Linked DNA regions of Homo sapiens: region 2 is linked to region 1. The links come from fine-mapping of genetic effects on gene expression. A gene starts in region 1. The other region holds a variant in brackets. All regions are shown on one strand. Distances are from middle to middle.

What was found. PIP is the estimated chance that this variant, and not a neighbour inherited with it, causes the effect.
Region 2: its variant is the best candidate, but not a certain one, in a credible set for the expression of KHDRBS3 in lung (TOPMed, PIP 0.78).

Annotation. Positions count from the first base shown.
Region 1 is chr8:135,455,464-135,459,854 of GRCh38, forward strand. It overlaps KHDRBS3 (KH RNA binding domain containing, signal transduction associated 3), which reads left to right and starts at 1,993. Exons shown (of 9, transcript NM_006558.3): 1 at 1,993-2,491. The coding sequence starts at 2,404. LOC101927872 (a long non-coding RNA gene) reads right to left here and starts at 2,512. Exons shown (of 4, transcript XR_002956731.2): 1 at 2,419-2,512. RefSeq lists a silencer at 1,865-2,164.
Region 2 is chr8:134,856,114-134,860,504 of GRCh38, forward strand. The region is part of intron 1 of LOC101927845 (a long non-coding RNA gene); the gene reads left to right. Among named protein-coding and RNA genes, the nearest start is that of NCRNA00250, 20 kb to the left of the region's middle. The variant T/C (reference allele first, on the strand shown) is at 1,978.

The DNA of each region.
Region 1 (4,391 bases):
TCTGGGTGAGGGTGGTTTGGGAAGTGCCCTTTTTGTTTCTGGGGCTGAGAGGCCAGTCATAGACCTGGGATTGAGAAGAGCAGCCACAAGCAGCCTACAAGCCTGACGCTGGGCCCAGGTCAGAAACAGAGGTGCGACAGTCACAGGTCCTTCACTCAGTTGGCCAGGCCGGGGCGAAGCACCACGACCAGCAGTGAGGAGTCCACAGATGGGTGTCTGCCCAGCATCCCTGGAGTTACAGCTGAAGGGAAGGCGAGGGAGGCTCAGAAGGCCCAGAGGACAGCCTTGCAGCCGGAAAAAACCCAAAGCAAAGATCAGCTCAGCATTTCCGATAGGCAGAGTGCTGTTTTGGGTATTTCATTATGAGTTAACATATTTATTCTCATGAACTTCTTATGAAATAAGTTTGGTTGTCATCTCCACTTGACGGATGAGGACCCTGAGGTGAAGAAACTTGCCCAAGGTCACAGCTAGTGAGCAGCAGATCCATGATTCCAAATCCAGGCTGTTTAACCCCAGAGGCTTTGCTTTTAACTGTGCCATTTTTCTGCTTCTTGCAAGTTGAGACTGAAGAGAGCCATGAAGAAGACTCTTACTGGGGACTCTGAAATGACACCTTAGCCGGGGGAGGAGTGGAGCCTTGAGAGTGAGGGCAGTTGAGTACTCGGGTCTGGGACTTAGAGCTTCCAAGATTTCTACCACCTCCCACTCCCCTCGGGTTTGTAAAGCTGCCTCCATTTGCATTGGGAGTGCGGGGGGGCTGCCTGGGGGACTGTGGCGATTGTCCTCAGGCTATTGGCTGAGAGTGGTATGCCACTGACTTATTCCTCCAAGAGACATTTCCAGTACCCTCCATCCCTGCCCCCTGTACTACACACTGGTGACCTTCCCCCTCAAAAACAAAACTCAAACTCTGTCCCTGATGCTCATGGTCTACTGAAAACAGAATTACAGCTGTCTGTGAATGACCTCTGACCAAGCTGGGGGGACACAGAGAAGGGACTTGTGACTTGCTTTGCCAGGGAGGTCCTGAGAGGCTGTCCAGGGAAGGTGACATTGAGGCCGGGACTTGAGCTGGCTGTTTGAAGGCAGGAAAAATGGCAGGGCAAGGACTGGAGTCCTTCGCCTTCCTGGGGGACGTTTATTCCACATGCCTCGGGAAATCTGAAATGGCCTTGGAGAGCATTTGCTGGGGGTTGGGGGTGGGCGGAAGGGGACAGAGAGCATTGCCACCGACAGGCGGGGCGTCCCAGGGCCTCTCCCCAGGAGCGGATGAGCTCAGACGCGGCTCACTCAGCTGTGTCCAGGCACAGCCGGTTTATGACCTAAGAGAATGACAACCCAGGAGCAAGTCGGGATGACAAAGACGCCCAGAAGGGCACGCGCTTTTATGTAACCGACCTCTGAGCTGGCGGATCTCAGGAGGTTGGCGCTCTGAGCTCAGGCGCGGAGAAAGGACGGCGCCCCTGCCTTACTCTCTTATAAGTACGAGGGGACAGCAACGCGACATAACTTAGAGAAGTCCAGGAAGCTTTAGAGAGCAGGGCGGTCCCGCTGCTATTCCTCAGAGCGCGACTGGGGCGAACTGGGGCGCCCTTCCCAGCTCCAGCTCGGCCCTTGTCCCCTCTTCCCAGGATCACTCGCTGGGTGACCTTGGGCGAGCCACTTGACTTCTCTGAGCCCCAGTTTCCCAGTCCGTGCATCTGAAAGGCTGTAATAGCGTCGTGGGGCTCCCCACTCGGCCCTCAGGGCCAAAGGTGGGCGCCGGACACGCGGGAGGGGCCCTTGGACGCACCCCCTCTCGCAAACGCCCGGTTAGTCCCGGCGGACTCGCAGTGGAGAGCGGCCCCAGGAGGCGGCGGGCGGCGGGGCGGTGGGCGCCAGTGCGCAGGCGCGGCGCGGCAGGGCGGGGCGGCGGGCGCGGGGCGGGGCGGGGCGGAGCCGGGCGGGGCGGGGCCGGCGGCAGGCGCTGGGCGCTCGGCGCGGTGGCTCAGAGTGCGCGGGGCGGCGCGCGGCGTGCAGGTCGCAGCTGTGGCTCGGGTGCTGGCAGGTGCTGGCGGGACTGGCGGGGATCGCCGTGGACTGCCTCAGGGGCGCCGCAGCCCGCTCGGCCCGAGGGCCCGCCTAACCGCGCCGCCCGCGCCCGCTCCTCCTCGGCCCGCGCCCGGAGCGCGGGGGCCGCCGGCGCTGGGTACTCGGCGGCCACCGGGGATCGGGGCTGAGCGGTCGGTTCCCGCCCCCGTGCCGCCGCCGCCGCCTTCCGGCCGACCGCCCGGCTTGGCCGCTGCTGCCGCGTCTGGCCCCCGGGTCCCCGCCGCTGGGGGCGCGGGCGGGGTCGGGGGTTGCCGGGCGCCGCCCCCCGTGCGCCTGGAGTCCACATCCCGGGCCCGGCGGCCGGCGAGCATGGAGGAGAAGTACCTGCCCGAGCTGATGGCGGAGAAGGACTCCCTGGACCCCTCCTTCACGCACGCCCTGCGCCTGGTGAACCAAGGTGAGGCGCCGGCCGTTAACTGCCGGCCGGCGGCGGTTGGGGGCCGGGTGGAAACGCGGGGGCCCAGGGGGCCCCTCCGTGCCCTCTGCTGTCAGCGGACGCGGCGGAGACGGAGGCCCGGGTGGCCCCCGGGGTCGTTTGCACGGGGACCTGGGAGGCTGTGGGACACCTAGGGGAAGACCCTGATGTGAATTTTGGGGACTTGGAAGGAGAAGGCTGGGGCGCATGGGTGAGACTTGAAGGAAATCTTTGGGGACTCGGGCACACCCAGGGGAAACTTCTGGGTGGGGGACAGCGACCATCTGGGGGCTTCGTTGGGAACGAGGTTGAATTATGTCATGGAAGGGGAGCGTGTTGGACTCGGGGAAGTAGGGCGTTTGGTTTGTCTAAGGTACTGGAGAAAAAGCTGGAGGAAAATGGAAGGACTTGAGGGACTCAAATGCAGAAGAGGTGAAGGGAACAGGTGCTTGCATTGTTAGCGAAGTTTGGGGACCTTGGAAGAGGGTTGGGGTCAGACCCCAGCACCTGAGAGGAGAGGAGCTCCGTGGTCCCAGGGGAGGAGCCCAGTTCCCCCTCCCAGCCCTTTGTCTCTCCTGTGTCCAGGCTCCAACAGCCCTGGCGGGGCAGTCAGCCCTCCCAGGGGATGGGCAGCCCATGCCAAGCCTTGCAGGCTGGCCCTTGGAGAAGTCAGTAGGGGAGAAGAGGCCGGCAAAAGAGCACCGTTCCGGAGGGCGTTGGGTTGGGTGACCCTCATTGGTGGCTGGCTTGAGGTTCGGAATAGTGGTGAAGGGAGTCCTTGCCATTTTCACACGACTCCAGCCAGCTCAGGGTGTGAAAGATCCTAGGAAGTACTGCGGGTCAGGGATACAGAGATTTCTGGAGGCACGCCTACCCGGGACAGTGTTCCCCTGGCTTTTTCCTCCTGTGGCTTCCTGAATCATCTGCTGGCATGCACGGTAAATTAAGCCTTCCTTCCTGGGAGCAGTCTCCTACTTTTCCTGGAATATGTGTTTCAGATGAAGATGGGTGTGGGTGCCACTGGTCTGTCTTTTCTCTGGGAAATGGCAGCAACATGATCTGGTCAGATCTGTTACCTTTTGCAGGAATTACTGTGCACTGACAGTCTGTGGTTCCCTAGATGAATCGGATCTGCTGCTCTTAGTGCTCGCCCTGGCTTTTTTATTGTTGGAAGTGAAAGATGAGGCAGACATATTCTATTTGTATATAGATACCTATATTTTAAAACAGTGACCTCCAGTTTTTGCCTGTTTCAACCAGTTCTTCAGAGTAGAGTGTGTGTGTGGTTGACCGATGGTGGAGGAGAGACTCTTTACTGTCTCCAAGAATTTAAGAATATTTGAATTGTTGAACAGAAATAGACTTATGGAGCTCCCTCATTTTATTTTAATTGCAGGCTTATTTTTATTTCTTTAATAAAATGGGCTTGTGAAAAAGTGAATGGGCATGCATTCCTAAATAAAAGAAAAAAAATTAAGTTTTATTTCTATGCCCTCTGAACAGTTCTGCAGTTGAGTTTGTACTCCTGTGCCTGATGATTTACATGTATCTTTTATTGCCTGCTGGGCTGTCATCTCTGTGAAAGAAATTTCTTCATACATTGCATGAGATCCGTGGCATTGGAAATATTCTGGACTGTGGACTCAAGTGCATTTTTCCTAATAAAGTAGCTGAATCAAAGTTAGGTTGTACTCAATTAAGGAACAGTTAAACTGAAAGTACAGTGCGTTATCTTATTTTAAAAGTCAGAATTATTTTCTCTGCCGTGTTGCCATAGTATTGTGTTGCTAAAACGTCCAAAATTCTTTTGGATTCTGTGTTTTTACCAGTGTTAATGGCTTCCAGTTACTTGAAACAGATATTTACTGGGGAAATGTTGCCA
Region 2 (4,391 bases), 600 kb before region 1:
TTGAGAAGCATGAAGGGTTATGAGTTAGGTATCATGCTGGGCACAGTGAAGGAAGGAAACAGAATATTTGTTCTCAAAAATCTCAAAGGCCAGAGACAAACCAGCCAGGGCTGACTTACAAACATAAGAAGGGAAGTGAGGGATAAGGCCTCAGTGTAGCAGTCCCTGCTTTTTTGTCTGTCTGTTGTAGAGGGAAGTACGTAAGTAGTAGTCATGATTCAATCACACAGCCACATGCTTGGATGCCAGGTTCTTAAAACCTCACCATCGTGACTAATCCAAAGCTGGGCACCTAACCCTAATGGGGTCAATCAGTTCAGTCTTCTCCAGAATTTTGTATTTATTCTGGATGGCAAATGAACTTACTCCAGGCTGCAGATCATTCCTTTATCTTAAATTTGATTTTTTGGTTAATAGGAGTATCATATACACCTTGAAAGTGGTACCAGATCCTTTGCTGCCTGCCCTACCTCTGTTCCTCCTTGAGGGGAAATGTGAATTTATTGGTTGGAGCCTGAAGTACAGATTAGGCTATACTCACGAGTGCCACTGGGTGGGTTCATTTTGTGTTGAAGGGTAGAGACTGGTTCTCATGTCCCTCTTCACACTTCCCTTTTGCAACTAGAGCTGGTTGGGTAAACTGAGCTTTGCCTGACCCTCTGAGACAGAGGGTCTGAGACTCTTCTCCCCACTCTGTTTCTCTCTCTTGTGTCCTCTTGCTGCAGTGGTGGAAATTGCCTACATCTGCACTGTCTGCTATGGAAGCCACTAGTTGTGTGCGGCTTTTGAGTACTTGAAATGTGGCTAATGTGACTGAAGACTTGAATTTTCAATTGTATCTAATTCTAATTAATTTAAGCCCAAATCTAAATAACTTCATGTAGCTAATAGCTCCTGTATTGGACAGCACAACTGTGCCAGATAGAAAAGGCTGGCAGGCAACCTCATTCACAAATTTTATCATTTCCATTTAGGGGAGCAGTATTAATGAAGCCGCTTCTAACATAGTGCCAGCCCACATTTTTGCACCTTAAATATGGAGGAGAGAGTGAGAAGAGTCAAAATTGGATTTTTTTGGCCGGGGCGGGGGTAGGGGCGAGAGAGGCTACACTTAGCCTCTGGTCTAATCTGTGTGTTTTAATTCACCTGTACCAGGGAAGATTGAATTCAGGTGCCAGTTGCTGGCTTACCTAATAACGAAAAGGTTTTTTGTTCCTTTGTTTCCTATATGACCACTGTTTCTTGTAGATCTATCTTTTAGGACTTCTTTACTCAGGAAGGGTAATTGATGGGGCAGGGTTCAGGCATTTCCATGGGCTCCAGAAATACTACCATGGCTTAGATGATGTCACTCCCTCTCAAGTGTGGCTTTATCAAATGCGATGGGACAAGGCAGGCTGAGGAACAAACGTGTCCCAGGAGTGCTGGCCCAGCTTGGGAGTTTGAATTCCAGGTGCACCACCTATTGATTGCATGACGTTGGACAAGTTACTTTACCTTGATAAGACTCAGTAATGTATTTATTATAGGTTGAGGGGTGGGGTGTCTTTTGTCTTTGCACCAAAGTGATCTCCAGGTGAGATGACTCCAATTTGTCCAAGGGCCATCCTCTGGAGAAGACTGCAGGTGAGAGGTGTTAGCATTGTTAGCTACAACTACCTCCCAATTTCTAGATCCCTCACCTTATTTCTTTCATCCATTTCTGCCGATCTTGACTTCAAAAATTTCCCCAGATACGATTTCTTATGCTTTCCCCAGTACCAGTTATTTTCTATGATACCAATTATTTGATTTAAAAAGTGATTAACACTCCCTAAAATTGTTGTTTGAGTTTCCCTCCTAGACATGAGCTCCTTAAGGGCAGGAATCTTGTTTCTTATCTTCACGTCTGTATTCCAGTATGGAGAAATGTGCAGTGAGGCTCCATCATGAACCTGGTTTTCCTGGATCCTGATGTAGTCCGTACTCAGCTGGGGG[T/C]GCTCAGGACCTGTTTGGAATTAAGCAGACCCAACAGCCAATCATGGCTCTGCTGCTAACTAGCTGAGACTGGGTAGATGAGTAGGTGGCTCCAAGTCTGTTTTCTTACCTGTGGAATGCAGATAGATGACAGCTACTCAACAGTGGGGTCATAAGAACGGAATGTCATAAGGTATGTACAGTACTTAGTAAGGTGCCTGGCACATGGCAGACACTTAATAAGTGGAGTTATAACCATAATTAAACATTTATCACAGCTTGCTTTTGTTAGAAATGAATACTAACATGTTGTCCCTCATTTGACTGTTAGCTCTTTGAAAGCAGTAACTTTGTTTTTTTCCTTTTGGTATCCTTGTTTATCCTTTCCATCCCCAAGCACTCAGCAAAGAGCTTGGGACATGGAGGGGATTCGTAAATACTTATTGGGTTGAAGTCTTAACACATGACAATTCCTGTAATAGGTGGAAAATCGAGTGGAAATAGGGTGAGACAGTTCAGGGAGATGATGTAAAAAGACCTCATGACAGTAGCATCTCCTTTGAAAAATATAGGAATGAACTTATCTATATACTGCATTCCTCAAGAGGAATTTTTGTAAATATACTTAAATGCCTTACGTTCCCTAAAGGGGACTATTTCAAACAGACGCAAATACTTGACTGTGTCTTCTAAAGGACTTGTTTACTCAATTCGAGAGATGAAGAGAGAGGCAGGTGGCTGAGATTTGAAGGCAGGGCTGCCAAGAATTCCATTCTGCGGCTGATGAAATGCAGCACTTTCTTTGATGGATGGTTCTTACTTTCTTTTACACAAGAGAGGAAGTTATTTTCAGGGCAGGTATTGTGTCCTTTTCAATTTTGCACCCCCACACCTAGCTCAGTGTTCAAGTGGTATAAGATATTTGATGTTAGGTATTTGTTTAATTTTAATTTATGAGTATTGGATCAGTTGGATTGTGTTTCTTCATCTTTGTTTTCATATCCTAAGAAAGGGTTCTCACCCTAGCTGCACATGTGAGTCCTCCAGGGAGCTTTTGAGAATACTAGTGCTCAAATCTGCTCTGCAGATGTTCTGACTTACCTGATCTAGGGGAGAACCTGAGCAGGTGATGGTCAGTAGCACCCCGGTGATGCCGCTGGGGGGTCCGATGTTGGGATCCACTGGTGAGGACGAGAGTCAGTAGAACTGGGTTCCGGTCCGTGTCACCCACTTGTTATGTGACCTGGGGCAATGACTCTTTCTCTGGGTCTTGGCTTTTTCATCTGTAAAATGAGGGCATTGGATTAGAACAGGCAGTTTTAATTTTTCTAGTGCAGAAGCCCATTAAGAATGGGTTTTCCTTCTCTCCAGGAAAATAAACATACTTATGCAAAATTTGCATATATTTCAAGGAATTGATGAAATTTCCTGTATTGGTTAGGATTCTTTTCTTCACCAGTAACAGAGACCCAGCTCAAATTGGCACCTACCAAAAAGCAATGTAATAGTTCATGGTCCTCATAAATCCTGGAGTAGAAGTGGCCTAGACATGCTGAACCAGGAGCTCAAAGATGCCAGGAGGAACTTAGGTCTATATCTTGCCTCTGCTCTCTGAGTTTTTGGCTTTCTTTTTAGGAAGGGTCTCTCCCAGTGATGGCAGAGATGTCCATCAGCAGCACAGGCTGGTATTCTACCCACCTAGCAACCCCAATAGAAAAAGCACAACCTTTTTTTATGGTCCTGGTAAATGTCTGGCCCAGCCCCAACACAACCCCTGTGGGTAGAGGGTTGGATGCTCGGCTGGCCCCATGCTTGTCACTATTACATGGAGTGGGTGGGCTCCAGTTGATCTTGGTGGAGAGCAGAATGGGGGTGGTTTCCCAAAAGAAAATTAGGCCATTGTTACCATAAGACAGAGCAATAAATACTGGGAAGGCAAGGATACAGATAACATCTTACCTTGGAAGGCTGCACATCTATGGAACCCATAGAGGTGCATGGCCCCAGGTTGAAAACATCTGAACCCACGAGCTCTGAAGTTGCTCTTAGTAATGTACAATGACAGATAAGCATGGTGTTCTTATTTTTGAAAGCTTTTGGATATATATATGACATTTATATATAATATATAATTATATATAATATCAATATATATAATATTATACATAATATTTTAAAATTTATATGTAACAAGGGCTATTGATTTTCCTTCCATGTTTAATTTTATATTCCACTCACTTCTGGAGTGCCAGTTATGTGCTAGATCTGTTAACCCCATTTGTTTTGATGGCAGTAATGAAGCTTGGCAGGGGCTGGAAATTTGCAAAAACCCCACAGAGAGGAAGTATAAGAGCTGGGATTCAAGCACAGGCCTCCCAATCCACACACAATACTGCTTCCAAGAAAATACTACCTGGTATCCTGTCCTGTTTTTT